Regions from separate parts of the Homo sapiens genome. Here region 2 is linked to region 1. Evidence: fine-mapped expression QTL. A gene starts in region 1. The other region holds a variant in brackets. All regions are shown on one strand. Distances are between the middles of the regions.

Region 1 (5,373 bases):
ATTTTGGGCTAGGCGTGGTGCTCACGCCTGTAATCCTAGCACTTTGGGAGGCTGAGGCGGGAGTATCACTTGAGGTCAGGAGTTCCAGACCAGCCTGGCCAACATGGCAAACCCCATCTCTATTAAAAACACAAAAATTAGCCGAGCGTGGTGGCGGGTGCCTGTAATCCCAGCTACTCAGGAGGCTGAGGCAGGAGAATCGCTTGAACCCAGGAGGTGGAAATTGCAGTGAGCTGAGATCGTGCCACTGCACTCTAGCTTGGGCGACAGAATGAGACTGTCTCAAAAAAAAAAAAAAAAAAAAAAAAAAGCCAGGTGCGGTGGCTCACGCCTGTAATCCCAGCACTTTGGGAGGCCGAGGCAGACTGGAGTTTGAGACCACCCTGGCCAACATGGCAAAACTCCATCTCTACTAAAAATACAAAAATTAGCTGGGCATGGTGGTATGCACCTGTAATCCCAGCTACTCGGGAGGCTGAGGCAGGAGAATCGCTTGAACCTGGGAGGCAAAGTTTGCAGCGAGCCAAGATCATGCCACTGCACACTCCAGCTTGGGCGACAGAGTGAGACCCTGTCTCAAAAAAAAAAAAAAAAAAAAAAAAGACTGCAGGTGGCATAATGAGAACAGAGCTTGACACATCCAACAAGGATGGACTTTAATTTAACTCAATTAATTTTTTTAGAGGTAGATTCTTCCCTATGTTGCCTGAGCTGGATTTGAACTCCTGGGCTCATGCAATCCTCCTGCCTTGGCCTCCCAAATAGCCGGACTACAGGTGCACACCACCATGCCCAGTTCTAGACCTAATTTGATCAAATGGGATGCCCATCCTGTAAAGGCTCCGCCGTGGCCTGGTGTCTCTCATGTCTCAGGGAGGCCCTAGGGGCTGACCCACCTCGAAGGAAGAAGGTGTCGTGCTGGTCACGGGCTGGGTGCTGCTGGGGCTGGAAGAGGGCGTCAAAGTTCCAGAAGGAGCTCTCAATGAAGTTATCAGTCGGCATCTCGGTGAACCTGGTGGGAGACACAGCCTGACTGCCCTGCCTGTACCCAGCAGAAGCACCAGGCACCGCCCCCAGCCCTGTGCTCACCCCATCTCCAGGAAGATCTGTCGGAACTGGGAGCGGACCTTGAGCAGCGGGTGAAGGTGGCCGCTGTCGGGGAGGACACCGTGGGCCAAGAAGTTGTAGGGCTTGAAGGGCCGGTCCCGCCAAGAGCCACTGGGGGAGGATGCAAGGGCCTGGTAAGGGCTGCCCGCCCCTGCCCCCTGCCCCAGCTCCCACCTGCCCTGACCCTGGGGTTGCCTGCTACCTGGAGATCATCTCTGGGCTCAGCTCTGTCTCTTGCTTGGAGATGCTGGTACTAAAGGCACTGCCTTTGCTCACCCAGTAGGTCTTCAGAGTCCTGTGGCCAGGGGAAGGAAGGGGACGCCACTGCCATCTCCTCCTAGAGGACTTCCTTGATCTCCCGTCTGATGAGGATCCCCATGCTACCTACCAAGTCACTCTGCTTTATTTCCATCCTGACATTTATCACTACCTGAAATCCTCCTATGTGACCATGCTGTATCTCCCTGTATTCACTCACTGATTCATTCAACACTTACTGAGAACCTAATGTGTGCCAGGGTCTGTTCAAGGTGCTAAGTACACGACTGAGTGATGATACTAGGGAAAGTCTAGCAGATTTATTCTGTGCCAGGCTCTGTTCTGCAAAAGTCTCCCCACAAGCCCCGGAAAGAGGGCAGTTTTTTTTATTTGTTTGTTTGTTTTCCTTTTTTGAGACAGAGTTTTGCTCTTGTTGCCTAGGCTAGAGTGCAATGGCACGGTCTCAGCTCACTGCATCCTCCACCTCCCAGATTCAAGCGATTCTCCTGCCTCAGCCTCCAGAGTAGCTGGGATTACAGGCACCCGCCACCACACCCGGCTAAGTTTTGTATTTTCAGTAAAGACGAGGTTTCACCATGTTGGCCAGGCTGGTCTCGAACTCCTGACCTCAGGTGATTTGCCCGCCTCGGCCTCCCAAAGTGCTGGGATTACAGGCATGAGCCATCGTGCCTGGCCCCTTTTTCTTTGAGATGGGGGTCTCTCTATGTTGCCCAGGCTGGCCTTGAATTCATGGATTCAAGTGATCCTAACACTTCAGCCTCCTGAGTAGCTGGGATTACACACGTGAGCCACACACTTGGCCCAGGCTATTTTATAGATAAGGAAACGGAGACCAGCAAAGGCCAGGTGACTTGGCCAAGGTCATAAAACTAGTTAAGTGACAGAGCCCGAACTTCAGTTAGGCATCCCAGCTCTAGTCTCTTCTCTCTGCCACTCTGTGTCTGCTCAAAGGGGACATTTGTCCTGTGAGAGGACGGCCCCTAGCCCATCTAGGTTCCAGAGGCCTGTCTGGTGTGTGTTCATTAAACTTTGGACCACACTAAGGACAGTGAAAGAAATGAACAAGCACCAAAGATGAAGACTAGGGGCGATGGGCTTCATGGAACTCAAGGGGAGAGGAGGGCTGTCAGGGTGGCCTCTTTAAGGGGACACAGGAGAGAGACTTGATGAGGAGCCTATCTTGAAGATCAGAGGGAAAACAGTTCTCAGCAGAAGGGTCCTCATGGGCAAAGACCCCAAGGCACGTAGGCTTGACAACTATGGCATTAAGCGAGCTGGGAGGAAACTGGCCACACCTGTGCTTGGTGTGGGCAAGATGTCTCCCTCCCACCATGCCTCCACCATGCTTCGCAGGTGGTGGGGGCCTGAGCCTGCAGGGGGCACCCACTCACACTTCAGCCAACAGCTTCCTCTTCCTCAGCTCGCTCCTCTCCTTCTCCCCCAGCTTCTCAGCCTGTCCCCCCCGGACCAGCTGGAGCCGCCGCTGCACCTCATCCTCCATGCTGTCCACCTGCCAGGATAAGGAGTGTGAGGGGTATGAGGGCCAGGGGCCCATGTGCCCGTCCACCTGCCCCCTGACCAGCCCGCAGGAACGCACCACTCGGAACACCCGGGGCCCGTCAGCCGCACTCTTGTCCACCCGAATCCACTTGTTGGACATGGCCTTGCTGAAGCCCACTTTGCCACTGGGCAGTCGCTGGAAAAGAGAGGCTGCAGTGAGTGGGGCACGAGGGCCACCTTCATCCCATCACTCACTCCCCATTCACCCCGCAGCTCCTACCATAAGCTCGCTCTGGGCCAGGCCCTCTGGGGGAATGCTTCGAAACACACGGGCCTCATGGCTGCCCTCCCGGGCAATCTCCTCGCCCTCCGCAGTAAGCTCCCAGTGCTTGGTGGACCGAAGTTCAGCCTCGATGACCTAGAGGGAAATGTGGGGAGGGTGTCCAGGCAGGGGTGAGGCTCAGAGCCAGGCACCCCCTTTCTGCAGCGCTGGGTCCCAGGTTGAAAGCACAGCCCTTAAAGCTAGGTTCACATCCCAGCTATACAACTTTACAGCCAAGTGGTCTCAAGGGAAAGACTTCCCCTTGCTGTGTCTCCATTTCCCTTATGTAACACAGGGGTAGTAATAATGATAGTTTACACCTCCCAGGGTAAAGTACACCACTAAAGATGTTACCTGGCAGAAGACAAATTCTGTCGGTTTTGAACCTGTGACAGATTTTAATGTGAAAAATTAGGTGAACTGATATGTCTCCACATTTTTTTGTTTGTTTTTGTTTTCTTTGAAAGGGGGTCTCACCCTGTCACTAGGCTGGGTGCAGTGGTGTGATCATAGCTCACTGCAGCCTAGACCTCCTGGGCTCAAGCGATCCTTCCGCCAGTCCCGAGTAGCTGGGACTACAGGCATGTGCCGCCACACCTGGTTAATTTTTAAATTACTTTTTTTTTTTGAGACGGAGTCTTGCACTGTCGCTCAGGCTAGAGTGCAATGGTGCGATCTCGGTTCACTGCAACCTCTGCCTCCCGGGTTCAAATGATTCTCCTGCCTCAGCCTCCCGAGTAGCTCGGATTACAGGTGCCCACCACCACCCCCAGCTAATTTTTGTATTTTTAGTAGAGATGGGGTTTCACCATGTTGGCCAGGCTGGTCTCAAACTCCTGACCTCGTAATCGGCCGACTCCGCCTCCCAAAGTGCTAGGATTACAGGCGTGAGCCGCCGTGCCCGGCCCTTTAAATTACTTTTTAAAGACAGGGTGTTGTTATGTTGTCCAGGCTGGTCTCAAACTCCTGGCCTCAAGTGATTCTCCTTCCTCAGCCTCCCAAAGTGCTGGCATAATGGGCATGAGCCACCATACCCAGCCTGTCTCCATGTTTAAATGTTCACATGTCAGTGCCCAGAATGTCAGAGACGGGCCCTGGAGGTCCACATTACAAACAAAAACTGAGGTTCCAGGTCCAGAGTCATGAAGACAAGGACAACAAGGGTAAGTAGAGTGCACAGGGCCTGGCTCCCACTTCATTCTAATCCCAACTCTGCCCTTCACTTACTGTGTGACCTCAGGAAAGTTGCTTAACCTCTCAGTGACTCTTCTCATCCATAAGAGAAAGGTGTGATGGGTTCTACCTCAGATGATTTTAAGGAGTAGCTAAATTAATACTCAGAAAGAATATATAGTGCCTACCACGTGACAAACACTGCATAAATTTTTTTTTTTTTTTTTTTTGAGACGGAGTCTCGCTCTGTCGCCCAGGCTGGAGTGCGATCTCGGCTCACTGCAACCTCCACCTCCCGATTCAAACAATTCTCTGCCTCAGCCTCCCAAGTAGCTGGGATTACGGGTGCCCACCAACACGCCTGGCTAATTTTTTTTTGTATTTTTAGTAGAGACAGGGTTTCATCATCTTGGCCAGGCTGGTCTTGAACTCCTGACCTCGTGATCCACCCGCCTTGGTCTCCCAAAGTGCTGGGATTACAGGTGTGACCACTGCACCCGGCATAAATTCTAATTACTATAATTATTTTTATGGCTATTACTGTCATTAGATTGAACCTCACCTCCTTATATTATTTAACCCTCTGTGACGTATACAAATGTCAGATCATATTGGTCAAGGCACTGTCACCCCACACAACACAGCTGCCATCTCTCCTCTGCATTGAGGACTATGGGCTCTGCAGCCTGAGTGCCTAATTTCAAATCTGGGCTCATCGGCCTCTTCTATTCACACTGATTATGTTACTGACCATCAGTTGTCACATCTGCAAAATGGGAATAACATGGCCATCAGCCAGGATTATGGAATGGATTGGACAAACAAGCTGAGACCAAAGTGGGGCACAGAACATGAGCTCTACGGATAAACAGCCCAGATCCTGGCCCCATGGATCTAGCCTTCTGGGTGGCCCACGGGCCCCTCAGCATCCTACGCCTGTGACTCTGTCACTGTCCACTTGCCCAAGTCAGAAGGCTGGACTTCATCTGTGC
Region 2 (5,373 bases), 440 kb after region 1:
TGATCCTCCCAAAGTGCTGGAATTACAGGCATGAGCCACCATGCCTGGCTAAATTATTATTATTAACCAAGACAAGAAGATAGAAAAAGGACAGCCCTGTTTTATTTTTGCTTTTTACATTTTTTTTTGGCTCAACCTACACTTAATCTTGACCCTGCATATGGCAGCCACCCTTAAACGGGGACTAGATGTATCTGTGGAGAATGAGAAAGCAGCAAGGAATGAGTATGAATTTTAGAGCTCATTACTGTCCACTCTAAGAATTCAGGTGAGTAATTTAACCTCCTTAAGCCTCAACCGTCTCATCTGTAAAATGGGTGTTCGCTGGGTGACTGTGAGGATGAAATAAGGTAATTCATGTAAAGTCCTTCTGTAGTGCCCTGCACGCAGCAGGCACTCATTAAATGGGAATGGTCATTGCCACCAGTGGTACGGCCCAGGCTTGGAGTCACACTTGCTCACTCCTAGTTCTGCCACTTCTCAGCCACAAAACCCTGCTCCAATGTTTCAGCCACTCTGAGCCTCAGTTTCCCCCTCCATAAAATAGAGACATCAGTCCTATCAACTTCATAGGGCTGTGAGTACTGAATGAGATCACACGTGGTGCTTAGCATGGCTCCCGATAGACAGTAGGTGCTCAATAAATGGGTGTGGCTCCTAGTTTGCTTTCAGGAGCTCATGGGGAGCTACAGTCATATTCCTAGGGGGTTCCCTATAGGGAGTCCCAAAGAAGAGACTGCCCTCACACAGGCTGGTGGCAGGATGTGGCCTCCTGAGATGCTCTGCATAGGGGAAACTGAGGGCTCCTGGGGCCCGTGAGCAAACCCCTTGTCAGGGTCGGAAACTCACGCACTTGGGATTCCAGACACCAGCTTGAGCGGCCGCAGCACTCGAACTGCCCTCAGCGTCCGTAGGTCAAACTCCGTCCCAACTGTCGCCAAGATGCTGAAAGAAAGAAGCCAGAATGGAGAACAGAGGGTGGGTTTTGGGGGTCAGACAGCAGGGCGGGGGTGCTTGGGATTCCAAGCTGTCCTGTATTGGTTGGGTGACCACAGGCAGGTGACTCGACACCACTGGCCTCAGTTTTGTCACCTGTAAAATGGTCTTAACAGTACCTGCCTCACGGGATAAAAGGTGATTTACGAAGACCCCCAACAGATGGTTCATGTTGCACAAATGTTGCAATGAGAGAAATGGAATCTTCCCCATGGCTCAAGGTTGGGGTGACATTCAGTATATTTCACAACCTACAATGACAATAGATTGTGGGGTGGCCTGGGGCCCTGGGGGAATGGCAGACCTTTCGGGGTTTGTGGCTCTTTATTTTATTTTATTTTATTTTTTTGAGACAGAGTCTCACTCTGTTGCCCAGGCTGGAGTGCGATCTCCAATGGTGTGATCTCAGCTCACTGCAACCTCTGCCTCCCGGGTTCAAGGGATTCTCCTGCCTCAGCCTCCCGAGTAGCTGGGATTACTACGCACCCGCCATCATGCCCGGGTACTTTTTTTTGTATTTTTGTAGAGACAGGGTTTCACCATGTTGGCCAGGCTGGTCTTGAACTCCTGACCTCAGGTGATCCACCCGCCTCGGCCTCCCAAAGTGCTGGGATTACAGGCGTGAGCCATGGTGCCTGGCCTGGTTTGTGGCTCTTTAACAAATGGCAGGAAAGTAGTTCAGTGTTAAGAGCCCAGCCTGCATGGGTTCAGATCCCAGATCTGCCACTTTCCAGTTGGGTAACCTTGGGCAAGGGACATCCCTGCTCTGTGCCTCAGTTTCCCCCTTTTGTATAACCTGGATAACAATAGTATCAATACCTCCAAGGGTTGTGAGGATTCAGTAAGTTGACAAAAAGTGGTCAGCACAATGCCAGGCACACAGGTTACCGGTATGCTAACCTATTCAGAAATAAATAAGAAAACAAAAAAATGGGTGTGATCCTGCTTGTGTGGACCAGCCAGCATCAGCTGGCTAGAAGGCAGCTACAGACCCCAAGCCTCTGGTCAAAAAGAGTCCCTTTTGTAAATGCAAGTTAGTAAGGATGATAGCAGTAGGTGGGATGAGGCTTCCATAGAAACCCTCCGAGCAAGACCCTGTCATGAGACCTCATTTGTAAAAGTATTGCTGTTGAAACACAGGGTCCCACCTGGCCCTGTTTCCTGAACATGTCCATTTCAGAGCTAAGTGATGTACAGTGCGTGGTCAAGGCACAATACAATAAAAGAGACTGTCATCAGAACTTCATATAATGGACAAGAAATGCTGAATACCAGAGGGTCTGTGGTTAATGGAAGGTTGGTCACAGCAAATAACTTGGGGATTTTTCAGTTTATTTTTATTTTAGACATGGGGTCTTGCTCTGATGCCCAGGCTGGAATGCAGTGGTGCAATCATAGCTCGCTACAGCATTGAACTCCTGGGCTCAAGCAATCCTCCTGCCTTAGCCTACTGAGTAGCTGGGATTACAGGTGGGAACCACCACATCTGGCTTGATTTTTCAGTTTTATCCAGGGGCTTGGGTCTTAACACTTCAGTCTGTGGCCAACTGGTATCTGTACCTCTTGCCTTAGGGCTGTCTCCAAATCTGGGGCAGGCCCAGGGAATGAACTTTAAGGGAGCAGCCCTCAACCAAAGATTGCTGGGAGTTGGTGGATCAATACCGCAGCTCCCTCACCCTTCATTCTGGATCACTTAAGAGGTGAGTTCCACGTGGGCTCCCAGTAGGACGGAGCTCAGTTGCCTACAGGACAACTCACCCTTCCTTGCCCCACCTCCCCTCTCCTTCTCCAACCCTTCTGGGGTCACCTCTCAGATGAACTACTTGCACAAGGATTGCCCTAAATTCTTGTTTCAGGATCTATTCTGGGTCATCCTAAACTAACACAAAGCAAGTTCCCAACTTTTTTTCTCAAGATTACCCCT[A/G]GAGGAGAGATGGGCATATTAGGTTGGGCTGACCTTTTCCACCATCCACAAGTGGGCGTCTGAGCGTATCCTATGTGCTGGGTAGAGTGACATATGAGACTATCCCTGCCCCATGGAGCTGATGCAGAAGAGAAGTGGTTAAGAAAAACATGCACACAATGAGTGAATCTGTTGCAGGTGTGATGCCTTCTCAGCTAGGAAGACAATGGCTTTGAGGGGCACACAGCAGGTCGTGTTAACTAGTCCAGGGCCTGGGATACCCCCTACTTCAAGTCAAGTTCCCATAGATGAGGGGGAGAAATCTGGCCAGTGGGGAAAGAACTTTCCAGGCTGAGAGTGGCCATGACAGAGAGCTTGGGACTGAAAGAGGGCTTGGCAAATTCAAGAAATGACATGGTGTCACCACTGGGATTTGGATGGTGAGGTTCAAGCAGCAAGTCATGAAGCCAGAGTAGGCAGGGGCCATGACATACAACTTTACAAAAAATGAATTTATTTATTTTTATTTTTGGAGACAGGGACTTATTCTGTCACCCAGGCTTGAGTATAGTGGTGCAACAACAGCTCACTGCAGCCTCAACCTCCTGGGCTCAAGCGATCCTCCCACCTCTGCCTCCTAAGCAGCTGGGACTACAGGTGTACAACAACATATTCAGAAAATTAAAAAATTTTTTTTGTAGAGATGGGGTCTTGCTATATTGCCCAGGCTGGTCTAGAACTCCTGGCCTCAAGTGATCCTCTCACCTCAGCCTCCCAAAGTGCTGGGATTATAGGTATGAGCTACTGCACTTGGCCCATTCAACTTTTAATTTGATTTACTTTATTTTTCTCTTCTCCTCCCAGCTTTCTGGTACTAATTTGGGTTCCTCAAATTCTGACTTAGAGATCACTATTCTCTTCTTGCACCTTGTTTTCTTCTGTGCTGGCACATAAAAGCTGTCAGGGCATGAACAGCAAAGAACAGGCAGTGGTTAAGTCCTTAGTATTTCACTTCACAAACATCAACTGAGCACTAATAACAAGCCAGGCCCTATCTCTGTGTGGGGGAGACTGAGAGTAAACCCAATAAATATAAGCAGGCTTTGTTTTGTTTTGTTCTAGAGATGGAGTCTCCCTGTGTTGCCCAGGCTGGCCTCCAACTCCTGGGCTCAAGGGATCCTCTTGCCTTGGCCTCCCAAAGTGCTGGGATTATGGACGTGAGCCACCACACCGGCCGAGGAAGACTTCATTTCATTGTGCTTTGCTTTATTGCAATTTGTAGATATTGTGTTTCTTACAAATTGAAGATTTGTGGCAACCCTGTGTCAAGGAGGTCTATCAGGGCCATTTTTTTTCCAACAGCGTGTGCTCACTTTGCGTCTCTGTGTCACACTCTGGTAATTCTTACGGTATTTCAAACTTTTACATAATTATTACATCTGTTATGGTGGTCTGTGATCAGTGATCTTTGATGTGACTATAGTCATTGTTTGGGGGTGCCACGAACCACATCCATAGAAGATGGCAAACTTGATCGATAAATATTGTGTGTGTTCTGACTGCTCTACCAACTGGCCATTTCCCCATCTCTCCCGCTTTCCTTGGGCCTTCCTATTCCCCGAGACATAACAATATTGAAATTAGGTCAGTGTATAACTGTACAATGGCCTTTAAGTGCTCAAGTGAAAAGAAGAGTTGCACGTCTCTCACTTTAAATTAAAAGCTAGAAATGATTAAACACAGTGAGGAAGGCGTGTCAAAAGCTGAGATAGGGCCAGGGATGGTGGCTCATGCCTGTAATCCGAGCATTTTGGGAGGCTGAGGTGAGAGGATGGCTTGAGCCTAGGAGTTTGAGACTAGCTTGGGCAAAATAGGGAGACCCTATCTCTACAGAAAATAAAAAAATTAGCTGGGTGTGGTGGTGCACACCTGTGGTCTCAGCTACTTAGGAGGCTGAGGTGGGAGGATCACTTGGTCCCAGGAAGTCAAGGCTGCAGTGAGCGGTGATTGCACCACTGCACTCCAGCCTGGGCAACGGAGTGAGACCCTGTCTCAAAAACAAAACAAACAAACAAACAAAAGGCCATAAGCTAGAGGTTAGCCAAGTTGTGAATGCAAAGGAAAAATTACTGAAGGAAATTAAAAGGGCTACTCTAGTAAACACATGAATGATAAGAAAGTAAGACAGGCTTCTTGCTGACATGGAGAAAGTTTTAGTGGTCTGGATAGAAGATCAAACCAGCCACAACATTCCCTTAAGCCAAAGCCTAATCCACAGCAAGCCCACAGCAAGACTGAGAGAGGTGGGGAAGTGCAGAAGAAAAATCTGAAGCTAGAAGATCTTGGTTCATGAGGTTTAAGGAAAGAAGGTGTCCCCATAATATAAAAGTGCAAGGTGAAGTGATAAGTGCTGATGGAGAAGCTGCAGTAAGTTATCCAGAAGATCTAGCTGAGATTATTAATGAAGCTGGCAA

Direction of the effects. Alleles are on the strand shown, and positions count from the first base shown. SD is a standard deviation of normalised expression in the study named.
With allele G in place of A in region 2, the expression in lymphoblastoid cells of the gene that starts at base 3,077 in region 1 is lower (large effect, 1.2 SD a copy in GENCORD).

What was found. PIP is the estimated chance that this variant, and not a neighbour inherited with it, causes the effect.
Region 2: its variant is fine-mapped to the expression of FARSA-AS1 in lymphoblastoid cells (GENCORD, PIP 0.92).

The regions. Positions count from the first base shown.
Region 1 is chr19:12,927,446-12,932,818 of GRCh38, forward strand. It overlaps FARSA-AS1 (FARSA antisense RNA 1), which reads left to right and starts at 3,077. Exons shown (of 3, transcript NR_149078.1): 1 at 3,077-3,101. It overlaps FARSA (phenylalanyl-tRNA synthetase subunit alpha), which reads right to left. Exons shown (of 13, transcript NM_004461.3): 2 at 3,167-3,304; 3 at 2,984-3,082; 4 at 2,778-2,896; 5 at 1,310-1,402; 6 at 1,090-1,218; 7 at 897-1,012.
Region 2 is chr19:13,370,835-13,376,207 of GRCh38, forward strand. CACNA1A (calcium voltage-gated channel subunit alpha1 A) reads right to left here. Exons shown (of 47, transcript NM_001127222.2): 4 at 854-945. Among named protein-coding and RNA genes, the nearest start is that of CACNA1A, 130 kb to the right of the region's middle. The variant A/G (reference allele first, on the strand shown) is at 2,921.